Homo sapiens: one gene and its partners. The protein of the gene in region 4 purifies or fractionates together with the protein of the main gene of each other region. This does not show direct contact. Each region holds a gene or a part of one and is shown on either strand. Other genes may lie near its edges. The genes, in order: CNNM1, USP32, POMT2 and FDFT1.

Region 1 (6,505 bases), on a different chromosome or scaffold from region 4:
ACCAACAGGCCTGGCCCATTCTTGTGTTCCGTTCCCTAGCCTTTGGTTGCAAACTGCCAGAGTCATGCCACTTGGACTCCTTTCTGAAGGTTCTGCAGAAGCGAGCTAGTGTGACCAACATTCTGTCTCAGGGGCTTGTCTGGGTTTAGCCCCCAAGACCCTGAATTTGGACGGCACCCAGCACAGCACCTCACCCATCACATGGGTTCAGCAAATGCCAGCCCTTCTCACTGTCGTCTTAGTTCCTTCCTCGTCTTTATGCATACTGGCTTCTCATTTGGGTTTTACTTCTCATTTCTGGCATTCACTCCTGCAAAATCTTACCATCTGGCCTCCCAAAGTAGTGTGCCAAGGCTTCCCCGTGACCTCACCGCAGCCTCACACCTGGCCCGGAGCGGCATGCCTCTTCAGGCAGGTGGTGCACAGGTGAGATCATCACACGTGGGCATCACTCAACCTGCATCTCAAATGAAGCCACGTCAGAAGATTCCAGGGGCAAGGAAAACAGCCACATTCCAGGAAAGGCATTTTCATTTTATTTAAAAATTATTTACAATTTATTAAGCCTTCATAAATGCTTTATTTTAAAATCTTTTTTTTAAACTTTTTTTTTAACCTGAAGAAAATCTTTGTGGGGTGGGGGTATATAGGGAGGGGAGTGGTGACAGGCTCCATAGGGATTTTGCAAAGGGATGGGTGTAATGCAACAGCAGTGGCTTGAGCCTGGTGGCCTCAGGTGATGAAGACCAGCCAGGCAGGCACCCCGGGGCCAGTGGTCAGCTGGGCAAGAAGCCTGCATGATGGTAGTTCTTGTTCAAAACTCACCATTTATTGGTTTGGGTCTAAGTACCCAACATTGAGGGCTGACACTTCGCCTGTTCCTACCAGGCAAGAGCAGGTGTTGGGACTGGATGACTGTGAAGTTATCTACGAGAAGTCATGCACTGCTGAGCCTCAGGCCAGGCCAGGCAAGGGGTGTGGTGAAGTCAATAATCATTGCTGGAAAAGGCTTCTCTAGCTCCAAAGTCTTTACTTCCACACGCTGTGGCCCTCCTGTCTGCAACACCTGCTCTGGGTTGTTGGGGAAGAGGGGACAAAGTTATGTGGGGGTGTTGGTTGTACAATACTCTAGGGTGTGCCGAGAATTTCTGAGGACTTCCACTTCTTGGTGGGTGCCAGCCTTCCCCATCAATTGATGGACATTTGAAAAGACCACTTATGATTAAAAACCTGTCTCGAACTGCCCAGTATCCACTTCACTCTGCATTGCAGAAACGCTGGGCTGAAAGTTCCACTATTTAAAATAGTAGTGTTTTTTTTTGTTTGTCTGTTTGTTTTAACTCTTTGTAGGTCTGAGACCTTTGAGAACCTTATGAAAGCTTTAATGCTCTGGAAAAAACATACAAGAATAAATACATTAAATACTGACAGTTTTAGGGGTTTCATAGACCCTCTGAAGTCCAACTATGGACCCCCTGGGGTGATGGACCCCAAGTTAAGAACCCCTGAGTTAACAGTTCCTGTGGGTAAGCATTTTCTTTTGAGATGCAGATAACCCAGAGGAATGATCAGTCTCCCTCCTGCCTGTGAATGACTCAATGGGTGTGGGGAGGTGGGAGGGAGGGTTTTGGAGGAAGGGGAGGGAAGCTGGATGGTATACTACGGGGAAAGGTTTGGGAATGGTTTGGAGATTTAGCAGACAGCACTCGATCAATGAGTTCAGTGAGTACTTGACTGAGAACATCTAAAGAGTAGGAGACAGATCAGAAAGGGAGATAGTTATTCTGAAGACAAATTTCACTTACTTCCAAGTTTTCCCTAAGGCTGGCTGTGGTTGCTTTTCTTTTCTTTTCTCTTTCTTTCTTTCTTTTTTTTTTTTGCGGGGGGAGACAGAGTCTCGCTCTGTTGCCTAGGATGAAGTGCAGTGGTGTGATCTCAGCTCACTGCAACCTCTGCCTCCCAGGTTCAAGCGATTCTCCTGCCTCAGCCTCCCGAGTAGCTGGGACTACATGCCCAGGAGAGATGGGGTTTCACCATGTTGGCCAGGCTGGTCTCAAACTCCTGACTTCAAGTGATCCACCCGCCTCGGTCTTCCAAACTGTTGGGATTACAGGTGTGAGCCACCGCGCCCGGCTTTGCGGTTGCTTTTCAGAACTGTTTTATTCTTGGAAGCAGGTATGCGCGGTCACTCTGCCATCTGGTGGTTATGCTTGGAATTGCACCTGCCCCAACTTCAGGAGAAAAACCAGAGATCCAGTAAGTTCTTGGAATAAAGTACACTCAGCTGATCTGCTAGGGTGTAGTAAGGGGGTGGGAGAAGGACAAATGCATGAAAAAGAAGAATGATTCTTCAACATTCCTGTGTAACTCCCACTGAAGTCCCATGAGATTATGTATCTTTCTTGGCTGACCTGGGCACTCTTTGGTTTGTCATGGCTAAACTTGCTTTCAGCACTTACAGTTTTTCCATGTAAGTTTTGTTTGTTTTTTGCTTTGATTTGCACTTAAGACCTGAAGTTCCATCTCTGGCTCCCAGTTGGGTCTCTCTGCTCCCTGTTCCTTCTCTTCCAGAGCAGAATTATTGATCGATTGAAGACTGCTGATTGGGAGCCAAAACAGATGTGTCCCTGGTAAAAACAGTGACTTGAGGTTCCATCTCACATTCTTTCCATTCCAGCTGAGACATACTGCCCCAGGCTGCTGGAACCCTTATCTAACAGGAAACCAGTCACTAACAGTTTTCTGTGCTGTAATGTCAATCACGCGCCAACATGGCTGAGTCCCACTTCTTTAAAGCTCTGGGGGAAATTCTTGGTCCATCCCCTGAACTAATCTTCAGACCTCCTACTCCAGCCTCCCATGTGCCTGTCTGCCAATGGCACCTTCTGAGCCAAGCTATGCATGAAATGTGTTAGAAAGTTAACATTTTGTTCTGGAGGAAAGAATGGCAAGTTCCAAGACGATAGGTCTCCTATGGCATCAGGGGACCCAAAGAACAAAGAAGAGCATCAGGGGTCCCAGAGTGGCATTGTCAGCTTGCAGTCAGACATCTCTTTTCCAGTCCCAGACTATGCTGTGGAAAAGACCATTTCTAGCATGTTCTATCAGAGGCACCTCCTTCTGTTATGGCCATGTCAAGGTTCTGAGTCGAACTGGAGGTAACGAGGGAAAATCTGCCAAACTGACAGCTAGGGGTGAAGAGATGGAAGGGAAGGCAGAACATTCTGTCACCTGTGGGAGGCCTTGGGGGAAGCAGATGATGGGAGGGTGGATTCTCCCCCAAAGCTCTGGAATTTCACACACCCAGTGAATGCTGGCTTTGCCCTGTCATGTGATCAGAGGTGTTAAATTGGAGTTGTCCTCAGAGGTTCTCTCTCCTTCTGGTGACCTCTTCCTTTTTTGGCCACCTGAAAAAAACAAGTTGCAAGTATCAGCCTGTAACACTGGAGGAACATTCATAATTGCTTGGCAGTCTGAGTTCTTTTCAAAACAGAAGCAGAAATGGAGACAAAGCCCTTGACAGCTTGGTTAGAACTAACCGGCATTGTATGCTGGTGCTGATATTGGCATATTTACATCTTGAAAGATTAGGACGTACTTTCCACATAAGATGCCATCTCTGAAAAGTCACAAACCCAGGCTGGTGCCTGGAATTGAGACTTCCTGGAGGGGACTGAGTAAAGCCCATGTAACACCTCAGGCCCATGCCTCCTGCGCCCCTTGGGGGCCAGCCCCTCTGACTGCCAGACACCCTCAGAGAGGACCAATCTCATAGACTTTGATGTCCCATGAATCAGGGTTGGTGGCTGTAGCTGCAAGCCATTTCCAGGGACCTGCGTTCTCTAGCTCTGAAGCAACCTCCCTTCTGCAGTGGGGCAGGTGGGCATAATTACATAGTTGTCCTCAAGGATGAGAGAGCAATCTGTTCCCAGGTCTGTTTTTAGGAAGGAATATCTTCACCTTGTTCTCTCCACCATTGACTTCCATCTGTGGAGGAGATTGCTCTCTTTCTATTGAGTCTCCTGGACACCAATTCTTTAAAGGACTAGACAGAAAATATTAGAGGCCTGTGGGCCATATGGTCTCTGTCACAATTACTCGACTCTGACATTGTTGCCATAGATAACAAATGGATCTGTCTGTGATCCAATAAGTCCTTACTTACAAAAACAAGTAAAGGAGGGAGGTCAGAATTGACCTGTGGGCATGGTGTGCAGACTTCTGTCCTAGAGGACAAACAACTGAATGGGACAGATCCCAAAACTATCAAGGGTGCAGTGCTGGCCCAACCCCTTCTGCGGATTTCCACAATTGTACCTCATTAGGGTTTCTAAGAGGAGTCCATGGCTCCTCCCCCAAGAGGAAGATGCTAACATGCTTTTCCTACTAACCATCAGCAGGGTGGCTCTCATTTGGGTGAAGAACTAGCTACTCACTCAAGGTTCTCAGCAGCTTCTTGCCCACGTTTTCCTCAAAATCGCTACTGCAGGGGCTGGTCTCTGTATCCAGGTTGATGTTACAACATTCACTATCTGATGCTGAGAAAGGAAAGGAGAGAACTCAAGTTGTCTCAACCTACACACTCAGGCATCAAGAGAGGGTGATTCTGAGTGATGACATCCCTCAGCAAGTGAAGTTTAAGACGTGAGCCAAGGTGAGGGTGGTGTAACAAGGCAGGGACGCCCAGGGAAGTACAGGGTGTCATTAGTTAGCAAGAGGCATTTTAGTGCCACAAAAGGAACAAAAAGATGGAGAACAGGAGCCGGAATCCAACGATCCATGCAAAGTCAGAAATCATTCCCTCTTCTCAAACACTGTTTGGCAAGAGAGAGGGTTTAGAGAACAATGTGTTCTCCACCCAGTCTATTTGCCAGACTAAAAGCACACGTGAGGATAGGTGGAGGTCTCCTTGGTATATTTGCACAAACCCTGGAAAGCCACAGGGTTCAACAACAATGCCCCTGTCTTCTCCCGCAGGACTCAATGGGAATTCAAAGAGTTACAGAATCTGAGAGCCCAGAAGGGGCCAAGCCTTACCACCAATGCAAATAAAAACCTAAGGCAGAGCGGTGTGTTGGAAATGGCACTGCACTGAAGCCATGAGGCTGAGCCTGCTTCTGATGCAGTTTTTGGACTTGAGCAAGTTATTTCCCTTCTCTAGGCCTCCAGGGTCCTCAAATGTCACAGGACGAGGGTGGACTAGATGATCTCCAAGACCACTCCATCGCCTTCATTCTTATTCCTTTGTTACATTTTCTTGCTATGTGCTTTAGCTACTAGATTTGGTGTTGGGGGCAGAAAAGGAACATCAGTTCTAAATTCAGGTCCTGGAACAGTGACTATGTATGTCCCAGATTTTCTGGGTCAGCCACAAGTTCAAACATATTGTCTTGTTGACTTTAAATTTTTTTTTTTTTTTTTTTTTTTGAGATGGAATCTCACTCTGTCACCCAGGCTAGAGTGCAATGGCGCCATCTCGCCTCACTGCAACCTCAGCTTCCCAGGTTCAAGCGATTCTCCTGCCTCAGCCTTCCGAGTAGCTGGGATTACAGGCACCCACCACCACACCCGGCTAATTTTTGTTTTTTTTAGTAGAGACAGGGTTTCACCATGTTGGTCAGACTGGTCTCGAACCCCTAGCCTTAGGTGATCCGCCTGCCTGGGCCTCCCAAAGTGCTGGGATTACAGGCATGAGCCACCGTGCCCGGCCAACTTTAAAAATCTTGGAGCACTTTTTCAGGTTGTTGCTCTGGACTTGAGAGGTCTTATACTATGGACTGAAGTAGGTCTGACAGGTCGGGTGGGGGAACTGCTGGCTTGGGTGCAGGCATAGGGGGCTACTGAAAGCTTGGGGAATACATCTTAGTGAGGCAAACACAGAAGCTTCTCAAGACTGCTGGGACCCTGGGAGCTCAGAGCAACACCACTGTCAAGGCAGAAGTGTTCAGTGTCTCAGAGGGAGGTGATATGGTCTTAGACCTCAGGAAAAGTCTTATAGGCTACACCTTTGGTCAAAACCACAGCTAGTTAGAATGATGGCTGACATCAGTTTCCTAATCTGTAAGGTAGGCCTAATAATAGCTATGTAACATTTATAAAGCATGGTACTGAACACTGTAATATGCCTTTTATGTATGTTATCTCATTTATACTCAAAGCTACTTTATAAGATAGCTGTCATAATTTATACCTATTAACATAAGGATACTTATCCATTCAGATAAAAAAAACTGAGTCTTAGGTTCAATAACTTGCCTAAAATTGCATAACTCCTAAACGAAGGAGCCAGGGTCTGAATCCAGGCAGAAACCCAACTCCTAATACTGCCCTACACAGTTTTCCTAGGAGAATGAATCAGACAGGGCCTGATGCATGGTAGATGCTCAGTAAATGTTTCCTTTCCCTGGCTGTGTAAGGAGGTCGGAGGTTTAACGCACGGGCTGCGGTCCCAGGGCTCCCCTCAGCCAGCTTTCCCTGGGCCATCCCAGTGCCCAAAGGCAATGAT
Region 2 (7,030 bases), on a different chromosome or scaffold from region 4:
ATTAGAATTTTTATTTTGTGCTTCAGGGCCACAGGATAAAATAACTACATTTAGCTTGCCTTTCAGTGACGCTTTTGCCAAATGTCAGCTACAAGGAGTCATCTCCCTCACCGCCAAGCTGTCTAGCAGCCAGAGTGGTAGCTTTACTGTAACACACAGTACTTTTTGTAATCAGACTCAAAGTCTTCATCCATACTGCTTGTGTCTGCCATCTTTTTGCCATCAGTCTTTGGCAGAAATTGTGCATAGTCTATCCCCTGCTGCTCATAGAAAAGAATGTAGGCAGAGTCGGTGTCAATTTCATCCGGGTGAAGTTCCTGAAAGGGCAAGAAAAACCTTTAACAAAAAGCCATCACTACTATGGCTCTAAATCCTTGCCAGGAAAGGGAAGACCAACCCTCTGTAATTACTAAACCTGATTGCTTCCAATAAGCTCACTAGTTTGGCTGTCTCACACCTGCCCCTTTAAGATGAGCCCCATTATTTCCAATGTTTGCTTTGGGGAAAATATTTTGACCATAGACAAGTCAAAAAAGAATGACCTAAAACCTCATCAAATTCTATTTATTTATTTTTTTGAGATGGAGTCTCGCTCTGTCACCAGGCTGGTGTGCACTGGTGCGATCTCAGCTCACTGCAACCTCTGCCTCCTGGGTTCAAGCGATTCTGCTGCCTCAGCCTCCCGAGTAGCTGGGACTACAGGTGCGTGCCACCACGCCTGGCTAATTTTTTGTACTTTTAGTAAAGGCGGGGTTTCACCATATTAGCCAGGATGGTCTCGATCTCCTGACCTCATGATCCGCCTGCCTTGGCCTCCCAAAGTGCTGGGATTACAGGCGTGAGCCACCGTGTTCGGCCCAACCCCATCAAATTCTAACAGTCTAGAAGATAGGAGTTTTTGCATTAACTAACTCCTGTTTTTTTTTTTTCTTGAGACAGAGTCTTGCTCTGTTGCCCAGGCTGGAGTGCAGTGGCGCAGTCTTGGCTCACTGCAACCTCCACCTCCCAGGTTTAAGCCATTCTCCTGCCTCAGCCTCCCGAGTAGCTGGGATTAGAGGCACGCGCCAACACGCCCAACTAATTTTTGTATTTTTAGTAGAGATGGGGTTTCACCATGTTGGCCAGTCTGGTCTTGAACTCCTGACATCAAGTGATCCACCTCCTAAGCCTGCCTCAGCCTCCCAAGGTGCTGGGATTACAGGCATGAGCCACTGCACCCAGTCAACTAACTCTTTATTTTTCCTCACTACTCATGTTTTCATTCCCTACTCTGCATATAACTTTTGTTCCTTTAATACTGACAGCATCTATATATTGATTCTAACAGAAATATCTATTTCCTATTCAAGAGATAGTCCATTATTTCAACAAATGTTCCCCAGTTCTGTTGATATTCTGTTTCTAACTTTCATTCAAAGACTGAGAATGTTTACCTTACAGCTGCTGTCATTGTAACAGTACCACTTGCAGTTTGGGTTTTTGGCATAAGTGACGTAATGGCCCCCACCCAGAATTCCTGAATGGCACTGTAAGAGATAAGAGAGTGGAGGTATGTTAGCAGTTAACTGTACTATGGCCAGGGTATAGCACTAGGATCTGAGCAGGAGAACACTGATCATGTAAATGATCAGTAGGTGAAAAAATATTTTAGAACCCTCTAACTTTTTCTAAAACCAAAATAAGCAAAAAGCAAAATACAAAAGTCATAAGCTCTAAGTCTTGTGTGGATAAACAATCATTTTATAATTGTAATTACTATTATTATTATTATTATTATTATTATTATTTTGAGACAGGGACTTGCTCTATCACCCAGGCTGGGGTGCAGTCGAGTGATCACAACTCTCTAAAGACTTGACCTCCTGGGCTCAGGTGATCCTTCTGCCTCAGCCTTCCAAGTAGCTGGGACCACAGGCACATGCCACCATACCTTGCTCCATTTTAAAATTATTTCTAGAGATGGGGCCAGGCTGGTCTCAAACTCCTGGGCTCAAGTGATCCTCCTGCCTCAGCCTTCTAAAGTGCTGGGATTGATTACAGGTGTGAGTCACCACACCTGGGCAGGCCAAGATTTCTGTGTTAACTTTGTCTATCACTAAGCTCAATGCTAGGAAATAAGCAGGACCTGAAAAAAATACTTGCTGATGAATACATGAAGACAAGTGAACAAAACACAGACCACTCTCTGAAAACCATATAATAAACCACTTACCGAAATTGCATATAGATTATAAATAGGCTTAATACGAGTATCTTCTCTTTGGTCATCAGTGCTGTCTTCTTCACTGTGGTTTCCAAGCTGACCATTGCTGTAGCCATTGCCACATGCTTCATGCTCATAAAGGAATCCATTGGCCAAAGCTACCTCATGGTCCTGAGGAGTGACCAACTCTGGTTGGCTGCCCCCCAGCACATGCCCTCGACTCAAGGCGTCAGCCAGCTCACATATCTGCCCAGCCCCATTTTCTTTGCTGGCATCCAAGTTCTCTTTACTACTTGACAGTTTATTTTTGCTGCCAATCTGGGGCAGCCGGAGCCTCCCTTTGCTCCTCCCCAAAGTCCGTGGGCTGCTATTAGGGCTGCTGTTTTTGCTGGAGGGACAGCTGGTTCCACTTTTTCTTGATGAAGAAGGAGAACCTGTGAACAGGACAGAAGAAAAGATTCACAAATTCAAATGCCACAAAGTAAGCCAGCCCCAAATGCTACCTCTGAGGTTAGCTTCACAACTGTACACACAAAGGTAAAGACAGGGCAGTCGTGACTGGCTACTCTTTAGTTCCTATTATGTAGCCAGTAAGTTACATTTTTGTCTTCTTCAATGCCAAGTCCCTATAAGCAACAATGTCCTCAAAATGTAAAGTACATTATAGGGACTCAGAAAATAGCAGAAAGATGATTTATGTCAGATTCAGTTGAAAAAAATCTAACTATTAGAGTAAGGAGTTTTCCAAATACATATTCCTCTCCTTTGTAAAATTAGACAAAAAATGTGACCACCATTTACTGAGTACTTCCTATTGTTAGGCATGGTACTGGGAATTTGTTGCTGTCCATTGTTACCTCTATGTCTCACAAAAATCCTGTAAGGCTTTAAACTTTTTGGTTATAGCCTCTTACCCATAGCCCCTTTTATACCTTTAAAAATTATTGAGAACCTTTAGAACTTTTATGTGAATTTTATCTATCAATATTTCCCGTATTAGAAATTAAAACTAAGGAATGAAAAAGTACAATACATTAGCACAGACTTCACTGTCAAAGTGACGATATTATTCCATGTCATGTTATCTCTCACACCATTGTACATTTGTGAGAGAATAAAAGTGAAAAGGCACATATTGTCTTAGTATTTTTATGAAAATAGTTTTGGGCAAGGCACAGTGGCTCACACCTGTAATCCCAGCACTTTAAGAGGCTGAAGCAGGAGGTTCACTTGGGCACAGGAGTTCGAGCCCAGCCTGGGAAATATGGCAAAGCACCATCTCTACAAAAAATACAAAAATTAGCCAGGTGCAGTGGTGCATGCCTGTAGTCCCAGCTACTCAGGAGGCTGAGGTGGGAGGATTGATTGACCCCAGGAGGTAGAGGCTGCAGTGAGCTGTGATCTGTGTTGCACCACTGCACTCCAGCCTGGGTGACAGAGTGAGACCCTGTCTCAAAAAAATAAAAAATAAAATAAATTAAAAAAAAAAGAGTTTTGATCCTCTAGACCCCCTGAAAGATGGGGAACCTCAGAACTTTTGCTATAAGGGGACAAGACAGCAGCTACCATTCCTGTTTACCGTATATCAGGCACTGTGTGAAGTGCTTTACTCTCCATGTGTCACTCTCAACTCTGTAAACCTGGCATTATCTCCATTTTACAGATGAGAAAATAGATTCAGGGAGGCTGAACCTCTTGCTAAAACTTACATAGCTCAAATACAGATAGGTCTGATTCCAGATAGGTTCTTTCCACCCAACCAACCTGATGTTCCAGAACAGAAGACAGAGAAACATATGTAGCCTACAGGAGTCCCAAGAAAGCACCTGCATAAGGCCCCCAGGCCTCACCTTTCGGGCTGCTGATGATGTTAGCGCTGAGTGAGGATGGGCTTTTGCTCAGGAGCACGTCCTCTTCCCCAGCCGAACTCTGCGCATCCACTTTCTTCACCTCCCTTGCCAGAATCCTGGGCTCAGAGAGCTCATCCCCCTGGGGTGTGAGTGGTTTATGCTGGCAGAGAGCCGGGTCTCTTGGTACCAAAAAAGCACTTGGATCAAAACTTTCCCGAGGAAATTTGACAATTTTCTGTGATTTTATCCACCGACCATTTACAAATTGAAATCGCTTAAGGTGAATAATCTGGAGAAGTAAAGGTAGAAAACATCTGCATTAAAGGGTTCTGAAGATACAAAATTTACATGGAAAAAACAAGTCAAATACATGTGAATGTTTGGGAATATATAACAGAACATTTACTCTTCATTATTTTTTAAAGACTTCAAAAATATGGTTTCATAAAGGCCTCTACATAGGCCCCAGTGCACTGGTGTGCTTGTGCACACACACTCAACTCAGCAGTGTGGCACAGCCACGTGACTGCGCAGTGGGTACTGCCTCCAGGCTCAGTTGCTCTTCTAGAGTCCACAAAGGCTTAGCCTAAGCTTCCACCCTCCACAGAGCCAGAAGTTCACCCTCTCCTGAAGTTCAAATTCACCACATTGTACCCCTTGTGGCAGTTCTCACATCACACTGAATTGCAGTTACTGGTCTACATGACTGCTCTGCTTGTTTTATGTGATGATTATATGAAAATATATACTTGTCAAAATTCATCAAACTGGATATTAAAAATCTATGCTTTTAATTGTATGCTAATTATACCTCAATTTTTTTTAAAAGGTCTACCCGTCAGCCGGGCGCAGTGGCTCACGCCTATAAACCCCGCGCTTTGGGAGGCCAAGGCGGGTGGCTCATGAGGTCAGGAGATCGAGACCATCCTGGCTAACACAGTGAAACCTCATCTCTACTAAAAATAAATAAATAAATAAATAAATAAAAAACACACAAAAAATTAGCCAGGCGTGGTGGTGGGCGCCTGTAGTCCTAGCTACTCAGGAGGCTGAGGCAGGAGAATGGCATGAACCCAGGAGGTGAGGCTTGCAGTGAACTGAGATGGTGCCACTGCACTCCAGCCTGGGCGACAGAGTGAGACTCCGTCTCAAAAAAAAAAAAAAAAAGTCTCCCCCTCCTCCCCACCCACCTTGTCTCCAAGCCTGCCCCTTCCCTCTAGTTCCTATCTGTGGAGCTAGCTAACAACCAATGTTATTAATTTCTTGTGCATCATTCCCTGGGAAGCTGTTCTGGTCTAAGAAAAACCTACATTCAGCTTCACAGAGTAGTATGACAGAGACATGAATAGAATAAGAAAACATGGCTGGGCACGGTGGCTCACGCCTGTAATTCCAGCACTTTGGGAGGCCAAGGTGGGCAGATCACCTGAGGTCAGGAATTCAAGACTAGCCTGGCCAACATGGTGAAACCCCATATCTACTAAAAGTACAAAAATTAGCCGGGTGGTAGTGGTGCATGCCTGTAATCTCAGCTACTCAGGAGACTGAGGCAAGAGAATCACTTGAGCCCGAGAGGTGGAGGTTGCGGTGAGCTGAGATTACACCACTGCACTACAGCCTGGGTGACACAGTGAGACCCTGTCTCAAAAAAAAAAAAAAAAAAAACATATAAATATCTGAATTAAAATATGCCAGTACCTTACAGTTACACTGATCTTAATGAATAGGAAGATTTGTCACTTCAAATTCTCCTGACAAACAACAGGACAGTCTCCTAATCCATGAAGGGAGAAGGCAGAAGTAAATTAAATCTAAAAGAACACACAGGCCCTAGTGCACTGGTGTGCTTGTGTACACACACTCAACTCAGTAGTGTGCCATAGCCACATGATTATGTGCAGTGGGTGTTGGGGGCTCCAGGCTCAGTTGCTCTTCTAGAGTCCACAAAGGGTTAGCCTAAGCTTCCTCTCTCCACAGAGCCAGAAGTTTAACCTCTCTTGAAGTTCAAATTCACCACGTTGTACCCCTTGTGGCAGTTCTCACATTGCACTGAATTGCAGTTACTGGTCTACATGATTGATCTTCTAGGTTATAAGCTCTTTAGGAAAAAGAACTACAAAATATTTGTAGAAAGATTCATCTCTGTATTCAACATAAAAAGCTTGTACAGAAAGTGTTTTAAACACTGCTGCAGGAAAGGTCTTATTCTCAAAAATAACAAAACCTCCTGTTTGTTCATGTCTTCTTTCTTTTATGCCAGATTCCTGCTCTCTCAGAGGCAGGACTGTAACATACCAGGATGGGTGGAAGCCTCCAGAGATCCAGCTTCTTTGTTGCTAAGCAGTGGGTCTTACACTTGGAACAGTAGTACATCTCATTTTCCCCTAGCTCTTCCTCACTGGTGAAAGCACGGAGACAGCTGTCCAGGTTGATGGGCTCGGCTTGCGCTCGCCGACTCTGCTCCACACTCTCATGCTCATCTACAACCTGCAGGTAGAGGGAACAGGAGGAAAGGGGTGCGTGGGAAGGCATTTAAAGTGGTGATCTAGGTATGCATCAACCTCTTGGTCACTCACCCTTATTTTACTCTATATAAGGAAAAAGAAAATACAACTGGCTGGGTATGGTGGCTCATGCCTGTAATCCCAGCACTTTAGGAGGCCGAGGTGGGGTAATTGCTTGAGTCCAGGAGTTCGAAACCAGCCTGGTCAAAAGAGTGAGACCCTGTCTCTGTAAAAGAAAAATCTAAAAATTAGCTGGGCATTGTGGTACATGTCTGTAGTCCCAGCTACTCAGGAGGATTGCTTGAGCCTGGGAGGTAGAGGTTGCAGTGAACTGTGATTACACCACTGCGCTCCAGCCTGGATGACAGAGAGAGACCCTGTCTCAAAAAAAAGGGAAAAGAAAACACAACCCAAACTAGAGTCTGAGCAAATACAGCACCTATATATTTATTCACAAATGTTACATCGGTAAC
Region 3 (7,030 bases), on a different chromosome or scaffold from region 4:
ATAATCACATATCTGGCTTGAGATAGTGATTCTTAAACATTATTCCTGCAGAACACAGGTTTTCCATAAGCCAGAATAAGGGGGTCTTCCACTAAACAGCAGGACTACAGCAGGGGAAAATTTAAGCTAGTGAGTAGAATTTTCTCAATTTAAAGATTTCTTCTCTGAATTTTTCTTAAACCTTTGATGCTACAACTGCTGTCAGCTACTAATGATAGAGAGTGCAAACAATGTCTTAGAAAACCTTAAAAAGAATCAATCATGCCCTGCCTAAGCAGTTTCTGTCCAGGAATATGAGTGGGCTCGTGGCTGGGATTTCATGCTGCATATAAACAACACACTCAAATTAGCTATCCATCCTAACTGATCCTGATTTCATATGATGGAATGAACTATCAGTATCTCATGATCTTCAACCAAGAGCACTATGATTTTCAGGGGCTCTGCCACTTGGGCAGATTCACAAATCACTTAGAGGTGAAGGAGTGTAGTGGTAACTAGCAGTAACTCTAAAAGCCTACCAGCCTGGCTCTGAGGGCTGGATCTACCTCTTACACTTAGCTGTGTGACCCTGGGCAAGTTCCCTGACCTCTTTGTATGTCAGTTCCCTCTCCTGTAACTGGGAATGATGGCAACCTCCATATGATTGTAATAAGTATCAGATGAGTATAGTGCTTAGCGTAGTGCCTGGCACATGAGCTGTACAAGCAGTCACTGGTATCACCATCATCACCACCATCCTCATTCTGTGGTGAGGGAAATGCCTTTGAGGATCACAGAAAACCGTAGTAAAGATGCTTTCAAATTCCTCCACAAGGGGGAATGGATCTGTAGCATGGCATTGACTTGTGATCCAAATTCATGGCTGCCCAAAAGCTCTTAGAGACGCCATGAAATGAGAAGGGGACACATACCCGGATCATGACCATGTGGGATTCCAGCAAGATCTCAGGAAAACTGGGCTGTAGCACATCCAGGCTGATGTTTGGCACTAGGGGAAAAAAATGCAGGAGAAAAGCCTTTGTCATACATTCTTTCCTCAGTCTGTCCATGGTGTCCACATTCCCACCAGAATCCAAATGCAGCCTTGCTGACAAGTTCACAACTGTTGAGGAGACAGAAGAAAGCTTGGCCCAATTCTTGATCATTTACTTAGCTGTATGAAGAACTCATCAGGCATTCTAAGAAATGCAAAGGAAATAGACAACAAGGTTTCACCTGCTTGGTGCTCCAACAGCTCCCAGCACCATTGCTTTTCACTGTGGTACTGGCTCAAATGCTGCTCTCCTATTAGGCATAAGGGACAGCTGCACAGCCCCCGAGTCACTGTGGCCCTTTGAAGGGCCTGGGAATGAGGAATAAATCATTCTGGACGCCTGGAGCAGCTGCTGTCGGGATGGGGACCAAGTCTGTCTCCTCGCCAATATGTCCACAGGGCCCCATGTGGTTCCTGGCATACTTGATAAAGAGTTGTTGAATTAGTTGATTAGTGGGTTTGGCTAGATTAGGTGGGAAGAAGAACAAAATGAAGGCACACATAAGCTTGAGGTGGGTAGTTTAGGAAAACAGATGATGAATCCAAATACTTATTGAGTTGAAGCTGACAACGCAGTGGAAATATCAAATTGGAGCTTGGGTGTAGAGATGTGGGGCACAGATCAGGGCTGTGGCAGTCACTTTCTATAAAAGCATTGGCTGGATATGTGGGGGGGCGGGGGAGCGACTCTACACTGAGGCATAAAGGGAAAGTAGCAGCTTGCTCCAAGCCTGGAGGCTGGGGAGGTGCCCATGGTGCAGGGGAGAGAGGAGCCCAGAGGAAGACGAGACAGATGGATCTGCAGATGGCCACTGGCCACTTTAGGGAGAGGAGTTTACGGAGGGAGTGGATGAGAAGGAAAAGGAGTATGCTATGTAGGTACAGACAACTCATAGAAAGAGAGTGTTAACAAGGAACAAACAGCAGCAAGTTGAAGGGATAGCACAGTTTACAAACGCTTACTTTTCTAAGATAAGGGTTTCTTATAAATGCTTCCCTCCAGAGCCAGCCCAGAAAGTGACCTCACTCACACTTGGGATTGATATGGTCCTCCACATTCCAGATGGAGTTGAGGGTTTCTTTCAGGTATGGGGTGCAAGTAACTTCCAACTGCTCCCAGCCCCTGTGAAAAGCAGAAGTCACAGATGTCTCTCAGAAGACGTGAAATCCACCAGAGAGTGACACTGTCTTCTGCTCTTAAATCCACAGGCTCCTTCTCTTTTCCACATGGTGGCCATTATTTCTTCATGTTCCATGTTGGACAACTATCCTAGGATAGTCTAGCATACAGTATTCCCATTTTAGAAAAAGACATAGACCCAGAGAGTTATTAGCACCAGCCAGATGTGAAAATGTTGAACTATCAGAACACATAAAACACCGAAGCTCCCCCGGAGTTCTGTGCTCCATAATACACCTGATATCTACTCTCCCTCCATCTGCCACTAAGAACAAGCAGACAGCAGGTGAACACAGGAAAACAAAAGCTTCTGGCATACTCCTTGTAGAGTGAAAGGAAAATCAGGACCCTCGATTGGGACAGCAAAACCCTAGAGACTTACCACTTGGGCAGAACCTTTCCCGAGGAGCCCAGGACACAACCTGTGACCAAATGGATGAAGCGAATTCGACTTCTCAGCACTTTGATCCGGTTTCCAAATTTCCTGTTTACGACCTCAATCCGCCAGAAATCATTTGAGTCCCCTGTTCCATTCTGCCATAAAAGCCAAGAAAAAAATACAAAGAAAGTGAGGGGACTTTAGAGAAAACGTGTCAGAAAGGGAAATGGCCACCCAGATGCCACCATGTTATGAAGGTCAAAGACCAAATTAGGCTCAATGATAGAGATGGGCAAGGTTACAAGAAGGCCAAAGAAATATCCCAGGTGATTGGCATTGTCCCAAAACTCACTATTACAACCAAAAAACAGTAGTATGACTCCTGGAACCAGAAGTCCAGGAGTCCAACTCTTCACTTCATAGAACTAGAGTTCAAGTTCTAAATACCTGTCTTTGCCCTTCAACCAAACTCAAGACATCACTCTGAGCCAACAGAAACAGATCTGGGCCATTTGCATCCATTACCTTGGCTATCTAGGTATTCACTCATCTAAGCCAGAAAGGTCTGGCCTGGCTATTGCACTTTGGAAATTAAGACATGTATGTCTAATTCTTCTCAGAAGATGCCCACAAAGAAGATTAGAATGTTCACAGTCTTGACCTAGCACAATGTGGAATGAGCAAACAGAAAGAGGGCTGGGAAATCCACCTGAAGGCCAGAATCTGTATACAGTTTTCCACTAGTAGTTTTTGTCTTCAGTTACTCCCAAAGCCATAAGTACTCATAGAGCTTTTATTTATTAGCTGCATCTCCTTGAGGTAGTAAAATACAAAAGCTATGGATAATATCCCTCTGCAGAACAGGGAAATGATACTTAAAAATAAAGCTAATGAGAATTTGGGATCTGGCAAAAGATAAACATACATGTTGTTCATCTGGGGTCATATTGTGGGTCCTTGGCTTCTATGTCCAATGTGATTTTAAAAGAGATCCAAATAGTATTCATATTTGACATTTATTAAGTATCAGAGCATGTAAATGGCATGGTTATTATGTGAGGAGAGAGATGGAGACAAACAGACTTCATAGGCTGCTTTTCCCAGAGCAGGCCTAGCCAAAAAGTGCCCAAATGTTAAGAGAGTCCCTGTGCAGCCTCTTATCCTCAGGAACATTCCAGAATTCTGGGGAGGAGATATCCCACCACACAGCCCTGAGCCAAGGCCCATAACTTTTACGTCCTACTCACATCCCCGTTGCTTACTTACTATGCCATAGCCGGTGACCTGATAGTGCTTCCGGGTCATGGGGGCCTCATGATAGTGACTGTGCAAGTTCCGGGAAGTTCTAGAAGTTAGAAAAGAGAAGTGTCATTATCCTATAGAAAGATGATGTGCAACATTTCTTCTTTTACCAAGGATGTTCAGAGTCAACTGTCAGGATAAGAAAAATTAGAATCTGAACTATTAAATCCAACATATCAGGAACTGGTTTCCTATTTACTCACAAGAAATATCCTGAGAACTGGAGAAGAGATGAGCCCAAACCAGGAGAGACAGATGGTAGGAGCACTGGACGGCATGCCAAGAAAGGGGCTAACTTTAGGTGCTGGCAGGGAGGTGGGGGGCGACTTTCACACATTTAGTAGCTTTGAAGCACTTAGCTTGCCTGACTTAGGAGGCAGGTTTGAGGAGAGGAAAAATTAAAACTTGTAATCTGCATGGCCTGAGCTAGGTAACCTCCTCACTGCCACTTACTCTTTCTGCTCCCATCGCCAGATTTTTTTAAGTGGACATCTGTGGAGGATGAGAGGGGTTTAATTTAGCTTTTATTTAGTTTTATATAACAACTCTCACTTTTATCTGGAACAAATAATAAATGTTCATTATAAAATTTCTGAAAATTTGCAAAAGTAAAATTTAATTACAATAAATTTTTATTAATGACAAATGAAATTTATTTAATAAAATAAAAATTTTAAGTATTCAAAATCCAGCTGACTCAAAAAAAAACCATAGCTAATTGCTTCTCTCTCTGTCTCTGTCTCTCTCTCTCTCTCTCTCTCTCTCTATATATATATATATATACCCACACACATACACACCTCTGATTTTTAAAAATTTGTATCCGATAATTCCAGTCTATGAAATGTTTACGGGGCTGCTCCTGCTGTCTGTCGTTTCAGCTTGTTCTTGCACACAGTGCCCTATTTCCTTGTGTGCTTTGTTACTTTTGGGTGTGTACTATTGTCACTAAAAAACTATGGGAACAAATGACAACGACTTTCCCCAAAGAGGGCTTACATTTGCTTTTAGCCATGCACCTAGGAGACACGACCAATCTAGGATCATGTTCATTTAAATTCATGTCTTGGAGATTCTGAGATCACCCAGGCAACATGAATTTGAGCTCCAAGTTCATGTGAGGATCAAATGGTAGTTCCAACTTCTCAGGAACTAAGGACAGTTCACCACCCAACCCCCAACACTTAGCTGGGTCCTAAAGTGGACCTGGGCATAAGTGGATAGGGCAGATTTACCCTTACCCCAAGCCTTTGGGGGTTCCAAATATGGGGAAGGATAACTTAATAAATTTACCACTTTGGGTGAGCCTAGGTTTGACTTTAAAACCTCTTCTCTCAAGAGACAGCCAAAAGTCAAGATTGTGGGATCAAAGCAAAAGTGGCTTCAGTGTCTCACTTATTTCTCTGGATTCCTCATTTCACTTAGGCTTTGGCCTGGTAACTCTTTAATATCTTGTCAGCCTTTTTATGCTCTTAAGAAGTCTTTATATTATTCCAGCATTTTTAGTCATTTTCAGTGAGAACACTGGTTAAATAAGCTAGCTTGCCATATTCTCAGAAACAGACTCCTACGTCTTTCTAAAGGCAGCCACTTAAGAAGAAGCTTTGGGAGCTGGGTGTGATGGCTCATGCCTGTAATAGCAACCATTTGGGAGGCTGAAGCGGGAGGATCGCTTGAGCCCAGGACTCTGAGGCCAGCCTGGGTAACATAGTGAGACTCTGTCTCAAAAAAAAACAGCAGCAGCAGCTTTCAGCAACTCAAATTTTCCTCTAGGAAATGGGAAATTGAAAGGTCCCCAGAAGGCAGGCAAAGGCTGGCCTGCAATTTCATCACCTTCATAAAATGCTTCTCCCATTCTCGCACTGTGGCCTTGCTCCATTGACCAGAGCCTCATCAAAATCTAACTTCTGTTTACTTCTTAAAATAACTCCCTCCCCTTGGTGCCCGTACCATTTATTTATCCAAACTGCAAATTGACTTACTCTTTGTGTTCTAGTCGAATAATGTCTCCATGTCTTACAAACTCCACTGGGAAGGAAGGGTCTAGGGGATCTGCCAAAAAGAAACAAGCATTGATATCCAAAATCACTCACCAGGCTAGTATTAATCAAGGGCCTACTGGTAAACAGTTATAGTACCATGTGGTATCTGCTAGAGGTACTAACCAGGTACTCTGAGACCAAAGAGGAAAGACCCCTAAATTGCTTCAGGGTATTAGAGAAGGGTGTCCCAGAGATAATGCTCGAAAAGACTCTTAAGGGAAAGGGAGAATTTTGTCAGGTGAACAAGCAGGAGAAAGGCACTAGAAGTGTGAAAGAAGAAAACTTCTGGCCGGGCACAGTGGCTCACGCCTGTAATCCTAGCCCTTTGGGAGACCGAGGCGGGCAGAACACCTGAGGCCAGGAATTCGAGACAAGCCTGGCCAACATGGTGAAACCCCATCTCTACTAAAAATACAAATAATAGCCGGGCGTGGTGGTGCACGCCTGTAGTCCCAGCTACTCGAGAGGCTGAGGCAGGAGAATCGCTTGAACCCGGGAGGCGGAGGTTGCAGTAAGCCGAGATTGCGCCACTGCATTCCAGCCTGGGTGACAGAGCAAGACTCTGTCTCCAAAAAAAAAGAAGAAGAAAAACTCCTTCGATGAATAGCAAATGGGTTTCATACTGTAAGGGTGGGTGGGGTGGGGGAGAGTGGGAACAGATGAGGCTATGAACGAGTGTGGCCAGACTGCATATTCCAGGCTGGAATGTGGCCTTTACCCGATGAGGCACTGAAGCCCCCACTGGAGCTTAAGCTGGGAAGCTAAATAGTAAGACTTTAGTAGTAATAACAGCCTTCTAAAAAGTAATTCCATACAAATGACCACTTGCCCAACTCTCCTCAAAATCAAATAAACCCTGACAATCTTGCCAGCGAGTATCTTGTCTCTGGCAATAAACTTGCTAAATGTGAGGTGAATAATGATGAAATGATTAAAGGACTACTTCTGTATCATCTCAAAATCAAGACCAATCAGGATCTAGAAAGGTGATGACATGGAAAAGGAGCTGGCAGTAATCATAGCAACACAGAATGGATCCTTGCAAATTTCTGTCCCAAACAGTGAGATACCAACACACTATAAATTGATCA
Region 4 (6,088 bases):
TACTGTTCTGCCCCCAAGCCAATCACCTGAAGACAGCTTTTGCCTTTCTTAAGACCTGAATATATAAACTGATAACTTTAGAAAACAAAAACTGCTGGGGGAAATTTTTTTTTTTTTTTTTTTTTTTTTTTTTTTTTTTTTTTTACAATTTTTTCCTTTTTTTGAGATGGAGTCTCGCTCTGTTGCCCAGACTGGAGTGCAGTGGCGCGATCTGAGCTCACTGCAAGCTCCGCCTCCCGGGTTTAAGCCATTCTCCTGCCTCAGCCTCCCGAGTAGCTGGAACTACAGGCACCCGCCACCACGCCTGGCTAATTTTTTTTTTTTTTAGTAGAGACGGGGTTTCACCGTGTTAGCCAGGATGGTCTCGATCCCCTAATGTCGTGATCCGACCGCCTCAGCCTCCCAAAGTGCTGGGATTACAGGCATGAGCCACCACGCTGGGCCATCAACTCCATTCTTGAGCTCCATCTTTTCCACAGTCAGGCAGGCTTTCAAGCGAACTGTACTTGACAAATGCAGAGCAATTAAATTCTTTATTATAAAAATCTCAAAAATGTCCACCTTTACTGGAGACCAATCTTCTAAAAGGTCAAAAGCAATCCTGCTGTTTCTCTCTGAAAGCTAAACTCCTTTAAATGAGAATACGAGAATACCCAGAATTTTATTCCCAGCCTTTGTGTGGAAAAGGCAGTTTGCATTCTTAGGAAACATCTAACTGTTACCTAAACCATAAATATTTCTATCTACTCCATTCAACCCAATTAAAGAAAACAAAATGATGAGAAAAATAGGAGCCGAACAGAAAGAAAATTCACATCATTTTCTACTATTACGAACATTCAAATGGTGCTTCAAATTAAATACTTTTAATTATCATTCTAGCCAGGATCATACTAAGTAGGATCTCATGACAGTCACATATGCAGCGACTTCACCTAAACCGTGGCACTGAATGCTCTGCCATGAGCCACAAGCAGCACAGTGATCATCACCCACAAGGACAGGTTGCTGGGATGAGGCACCCTTTCCTTTCATGTTTAGGTTCTTCTCACCTGCATTTCACTTTCCTAAAGGTCCCAGCCACACAGCGTTCTTTTAGGGATTAAAGTAGTAGGAAAAAAATAAAGAGAACACAACATCCATCCTTAAAGAAAAAAAGTAAATCCACTTTATGGTGGACTTCAGCTATGGACAAATTTGGGATCAGTGTTCTCCAGTCTGAACATAGTCTTCTGTTACCTGGGAGAGAGTGGTCAGGTACTGCCAGCTCAGGGCAGCCAAAAGCATGACAAACGACAGGTAGATGGGGGAGTAGTGGCTTCGGGAAATCAGCTGACAGTTGGGAAGATTCTGCGTCCGGATGGTGGAGATGATCTGCCTTGTTTTGCTAGAAGATGGGTCTGAGTCGGGGATTCTATGATAAATCTGTTAAAGACACAGGAAAAAATGATAAGTGCTATGTGCTTTACATTTTCCATGGCTACTTACAACAACCCTCCACTGGCAGGTATTTTATACCCATTTTACCAATGAGGAAAGGGAGGCTCAGAGAACATGAACATAACTTACCCAAAGCCATCCCAATGATAAGGTGGGGATGTCAGCCCCAGCTCATCTCAAAGCCTGTCTTCCTGAGCAAACAGGAGGCACAGGTGTGCATACTGCACCCAGAGGCCCTCGAGAGCAGCGGCTGAGCCACAATGATCTTCACATCCCCAGCACCTCACAGTGCCAGGCCCAATAAACGTCACCATAGTTCACGTAGACAGGCACAGACTAACATGACGAAAGGGAAATGCTGGAAAGACTGGGCAAAAGCAGCTTAGAAACAAGATGGAACACGCAGTACAGACCACAGCTTGACAAAGGGGGACAGGAACAGAAGCAGGGAGCCGTATGAACCACCCTGGAGTCCTCCCTGTGCCTCCCTCCCCACTCCTCCACAAGCCTCCCAAGTATGTGCAGAATCCATCTCTTCCCCTACATCCCTAAAATTACTGCCTGAGATTAGGCCCTGAGTGCCTCTCAGATGAGCTATCTCAGTCTCCAACGTGAGTCTAAGCTTAAATTCCCAAATCTACCTGTCTGCTCTACACTGTCACCAAGGAGATCTCAAACCTCTGCTTGATGCCTCAGTGGCACCAGCCCTCTCACCTGGAGAAAAAAAGCCTGAGCTCTGTAATGTGTAGCGCAAGGCCACCCATGGTCCAGACCTACTGCACCTGTCTAGTGTCACCAGCCCTTGCCCACCTCCCTCTCTACAGTCTAGTAACAGTTGCCGGGCCAGGCACAGTGGCTCATGTTTGGAATCCCAGCACTTCAGGAGGCTGAGGCACGTAGACTGCTTAAGCTCAGGCGTTTAAGACCAGCCTGGACAACACAGTAAAACCCTGTTTCTACAAAATGTACAAAAATTAGCCGGGCATCGTGGCATGCACCTGTGGTCCCCCAGCTACTTGGGGACTGGGGTGGGAAGATCACTTGAGCCTGGGAGGTGGAGGTTGCAGTGATCCGAGATCATGCCACTGCACTCCAGCCTGGATGACAGAACAAGACCCTGTCTCAAAAAACAAACAAAAACAAAAGAACAACTGTCTACTGTTGTTTCGCCCATGCGATGCTGCTGCACACCTCTGTTCCAGTCTCATACCACTCCTTCTCTCTGGAATGCGCCTCCCACGTCCCTTCAACTGGCTCCTACCTAGGCCCCCAAGTCTCAACTTCAGGATTATGCCTTCTAGAAAACCTGTCTGCAGCTCCAGGTTCAGCCAGGAGCCACCCTATTGTACATACCTTTACCTTTCCACTTACGTGGAAATGGACCATCTGTAGTTTTCACCCTGACTACACCGCACCTACTTACTCACCTTTTTATCTCCAGCCTAGCCCTGTGCTGGCACACAGCAAGCGTGCATCCCTGGCTAATTTTTGCATTTTTAATAGAGACAAGGTTTTACCAGTGTTGGTCAGGCTGGTCTCAAACTCCAGACCTCAAGTGATCCACCCACCTCGGCCTCCCAAAGGGCTGGGATTACAGGCGTGAGCCACTCCACCCAGCCAAGACTTTTCAATACAAGCATCCATAAAGTAAAATATATAGTGATGAGATAATTCTATTAGAAGTCATCCTTCTGCCTGCCCATGTTGCTTTACTGCTTGTCTTAGCCTTCCTCCTAAAAGCAGAACCTGAGGCAAAAGCTTGCATGCAGCCATTTATTTGGAAACGAGTGGAGAAGTGAAACAGAAGGCAGGAAGGCCTATCAAGGATGTGTTGAGTTGGCTTGATCTTGAGGGACCTTCAAGGAGCCTTATGAAAGGTGGCCCTGAGGAGCAGAGAGGTGGCCCTCACCTCCTCTGGGTTGTGGGGACCCACGTGCCAGGCAGTTCCTGCAGCTCGTCAGAAGCCCAAGGGCAGGAAGCGAGAGGTCTCTGGAGCAGAAGGCAAGGTCCAGCCCTACTTGGAAACTGGTTGCTACAGCAGTGGCCGAAGGCCAAGATGAGTGGCAGTGACACACAGGGTCTCACACACTACTCTTGTAAATGACCTGAGTGCCCTGATGCCATCAAAAGCCATAAAATAGGCATTCACTACAATGACCCTGAGAATAGTTTCTCAGGTAAGTAATGGTTTTGGTATATTGTAGATTTTTTTTTTTTTTTAAGATGGTGTCTCGCTCTGTCACCCAGGCTAGAGTGCAGTGGTGCAATCTTGGCTCACTGCAGCCTCCACTTCCCAGGTTCATGCGATTCTCCTGCCTCAGCCTCCCAAGTAGGTGGGATTACAGGCACCTGCCACCATGCCCAACTAACTTTTGTATTTTTTTTTTTTTTTTTTTTTTTTAGTAGAGACAGGGTTTCATCACATAAGTCAGGCTGGTTTCGCACTCCTGACCTCAAGTGATCCGCCTGCCTCAGCCTCCCAAAGTGCTGAGATTAGAGGCATCAGCCACCATGCTCGGTGACATTTCACTTTTGAAAATTTAAGACTTACCTTCTCAGAGCAACTGTACAAGCAATGTACAAATAAAGGATGATAACATCAGCACCAAACTACACACTTATTCATTCCTGGGTTAATTCTGTGGCTCCTATGACTTTATTTCTTCATTTTACTTTCTCATCTACTTGTACTTTGTTAGCCTGTTGTACTTATAACCATAAGCCATCTTACATCCTTTTGGGAAAAAAGATTTACTTATTTGGAATCAATCGCTGGCACCCAAGTGAATATACACAACCAACAAAAACCCTTTTAGAGAACTCCAAGAGCACTTCAATATGCCCTTCCAGGAGATAAGTAAGGTGAATAAATTAAGAGAAATCTTGGTTGTGACAGTCCCCGGTAATACAATTAGTGGCAAAACTTTTGAGTCCTTTGATGATCATTTCTAACATATAAGCATGACAGCACAACTGGAAGAGCTGCAGTCACTGGTACTCAGACGTGGACTTACCTAAAACAGAGCCGGTAAGGCCAAAGGGACCTTCTAGATGCTTCGTTGCTAGACCAAACCCCACTCTCCATTTACCTGAAGGCACACAGTAGGTTTCTGCAAACTCAATTATTCAGGTCTTAAAAACCTACTAGCCTCAATCAAGGAGTTACATCTGCTTGTCAAGGACAGGTCATAGCCGACTTTTCATCTACATGCCCGGCATAAAGTTGAAGCCAAATACTTGAGGGGTTTGAGAAAGGGCCTTCACCCTGTTGCCCAGGCTGGAGTGCAGTGGTGCCATCTCAGCTCACTACAACCTCCACCTCCCGAGTTCAAGCGATGCTCATGTCTCAGGCTCCGGAATAGCTGGGATGACAAGTGTGCACCACCACACCTGGCTAAATGTTGTATTTTTAGTAGAGACAGGGTTTTGCCATATTGGCCAGGCTGGTCTCGAACTCCTTACCTCAAGTGATCTGCCTGCCTCAGCCTCCCAAAGTTTTGGGATTACAGGTGTGAGCCACAGTGCGAGGCTTGATGATTAAATGACACAGGCTCCTATAAATGTTTACTAGACTGAAATAAGCTCTTGTGCAATGCTGTGCTACATACAGCAGCTCCTCTGTGAGTCCATGTGGTACTTCCACGTCTCAGCAGTTCTACTTACAACTGCGAATATGGAATCAGCTTGATCATCATTTAAAACTCTTGTCTATGAACATCTAAACTTCCATTAAAGCAAAAACATCATTTGGGAAAAAAAGGCAGATTCTGATTCGATACGTTTGGGTGGGGGCTGGATGTCTTAATGGGCTCCCAGGTGATTCCTGGCAGCTGCTGGCTGGGGACCATCCTTGAGCAGCTAGGCACCTGGGGCTCAAAGAGCCGGATGATTCTCTGACTTAACCACAGGAGGGCACAGGAAGTGTGCAGAGACACGAACAAGATTCTCCCTGCCAAGGAATTCACTTTGGCAGAGAGGGGAATGGGGGTTTCTGGCCGTTTGGCTGAGCATTTATTTCTATCCCAAAATAGCAGGTTGATCTTCTCCCCAGCTGACAAGCATCCAGGCTGGTTTGAAGCAGAGGCTGCTCCAGAGTGGGGTGAGGGCCCTGCAGTGTGGCCAACTGCTCGTGAAGACCTGGGGCTGCACTCCAAGCCCCCACTAAGCACTGGAGAAGCATGAGGAGGTCCTCTGGCAAGTCCCTTCCAGGTGCATGCTCGCTACAACACTAAGTCCAGAGATCGGACAGAGTCAACGTTTCTTCCTTTCTTACTACAAAGGACAGACTTGGTCAGCAAGGAGAAATAGGATCAGTGTTAATATCTGGACACCAGCAAGAGGCCAGACGACTTGTGGCTTCATACAAAATGTTTTCATTTAAAACTTTACTTGTAAAATGTCCTTACTGCTGAAACTAAAACCATTAACAGGTTCTACTGCTTAAGACTTAGAAATCTTCAAAGATTTCCCTAAATCAAATCAACTTAAGTATTAATATTAACATTTCTCCCCTAATGCCTTGAGTTTTACTGGGATAACAGAACAACTGATACCCTAAGTCAGAAGTCAGCAAACCTCTTATTCAAGGGCCAAAAAATATTTTCAGCTTTACAAGTCATCGCCTGTTGCAGCTCCTCAACTCGGCCGT

The links.
Region 1: the proteins of FDFT1 (region 4) and CNNM1 purify together in Homo sapiens (affinity purification with mass spectrometry; 2 studies listed by BioGRID and IntAct, with this or other methods). This does not show direct contact.
Region 2: the proteins of FDFT1 (region 4) and USP32 purify together in Homo sapiens (affinity purification with mass spectrometry; 2 studies listed by BioGRID and IntAct, with this or other methods). This does not show direct contact.
Region 3: the proteins of FDFT1 (region 4) and POMT2 purify together in Homo sapiens (affinity purification with mass spectrometry; 2 studies listed by BioGRID and IntAct, with this or other methods). This does not show direct contact.

Annotation. Positions count from the first base shown.
Region 1 is NC_000010.11:99,388,339-99,394,843, reverse strand, and holds the end of CNNM1 (metal transporter CNNM1), read right to left. Parts: intron 4,539-6,505; coding exon 4,437-4,538; intron 3,408-4,436; coding exon 3,328-3,407; 3' UTR 514-3,327; downstream 1-513. UniProt on the Homo sapiens protein: Probable metal transporter.
Region 2 is NC_000017.11:60,179,112-60,186,141, forward strand, and holds part of USP32 (ubiquitin carboxyl-terminal hydrolase 32), read right to left. Parts: intron 6,541-7,030; coding exon 6,349-6,540; intron 4,343-6,348; coding exon 4,054-4,342; intron 2,638-4,053; coding exon 2,213-2,637; intron 1,527-2,212; coding exon 1,434-1,526; intron 318-1,433; coding exon 144-317; 3' UTR 1-143. UniProt on the Homo sapiens protein: Deubiquitinase that can remove conjugated ubiquitin from target proteins, such as RAB7A and LAMTOR1.
Region 3 is NC_000014.9:77,282,883-77,289,912, forward strand, and holds part of POMT2 (protein O-mannosyl-transferase 2), read right to left. Parts: intron 5,950-7,030; coding exon 5,880-5,949; intron 4,390-5,879; coding exon of another isoform or gene 4,351-4,389; intron 3,941-4,350; coding exon 3,862-3,940; intron 2,751-3,861; coding exon 2,599-2,750; intron 2,160-2,598; coding exon 2,068-2,159; intron 992-2,067; coding exon 915-991; intron 1-914. UniProt on the Homo sapiens protein: Transfers mannosyl residues to the hydroxyl group of serine or threonine residues. Coexpression of both POMT1 and POMT2 is necessary for enzyme activity, expression of either POMT1 or POMT2 alone is insufficient.
Region 4 is NC_000008.11:11,833,725-11,839,812, reverse strand, and holds the end of FDFT1 (squalene synthase), read right to left. Parts: intron 1,426-6,088; coding exon 1,204-1,425; 3' UTR 515-1,203; downstream 1-514. UniProt on the Homo sapiens protein: Catalyzes the condensation of 2 farnesyl pyrophosphate (FPP) moieties to form squalene. Proceeds in two distinct steps.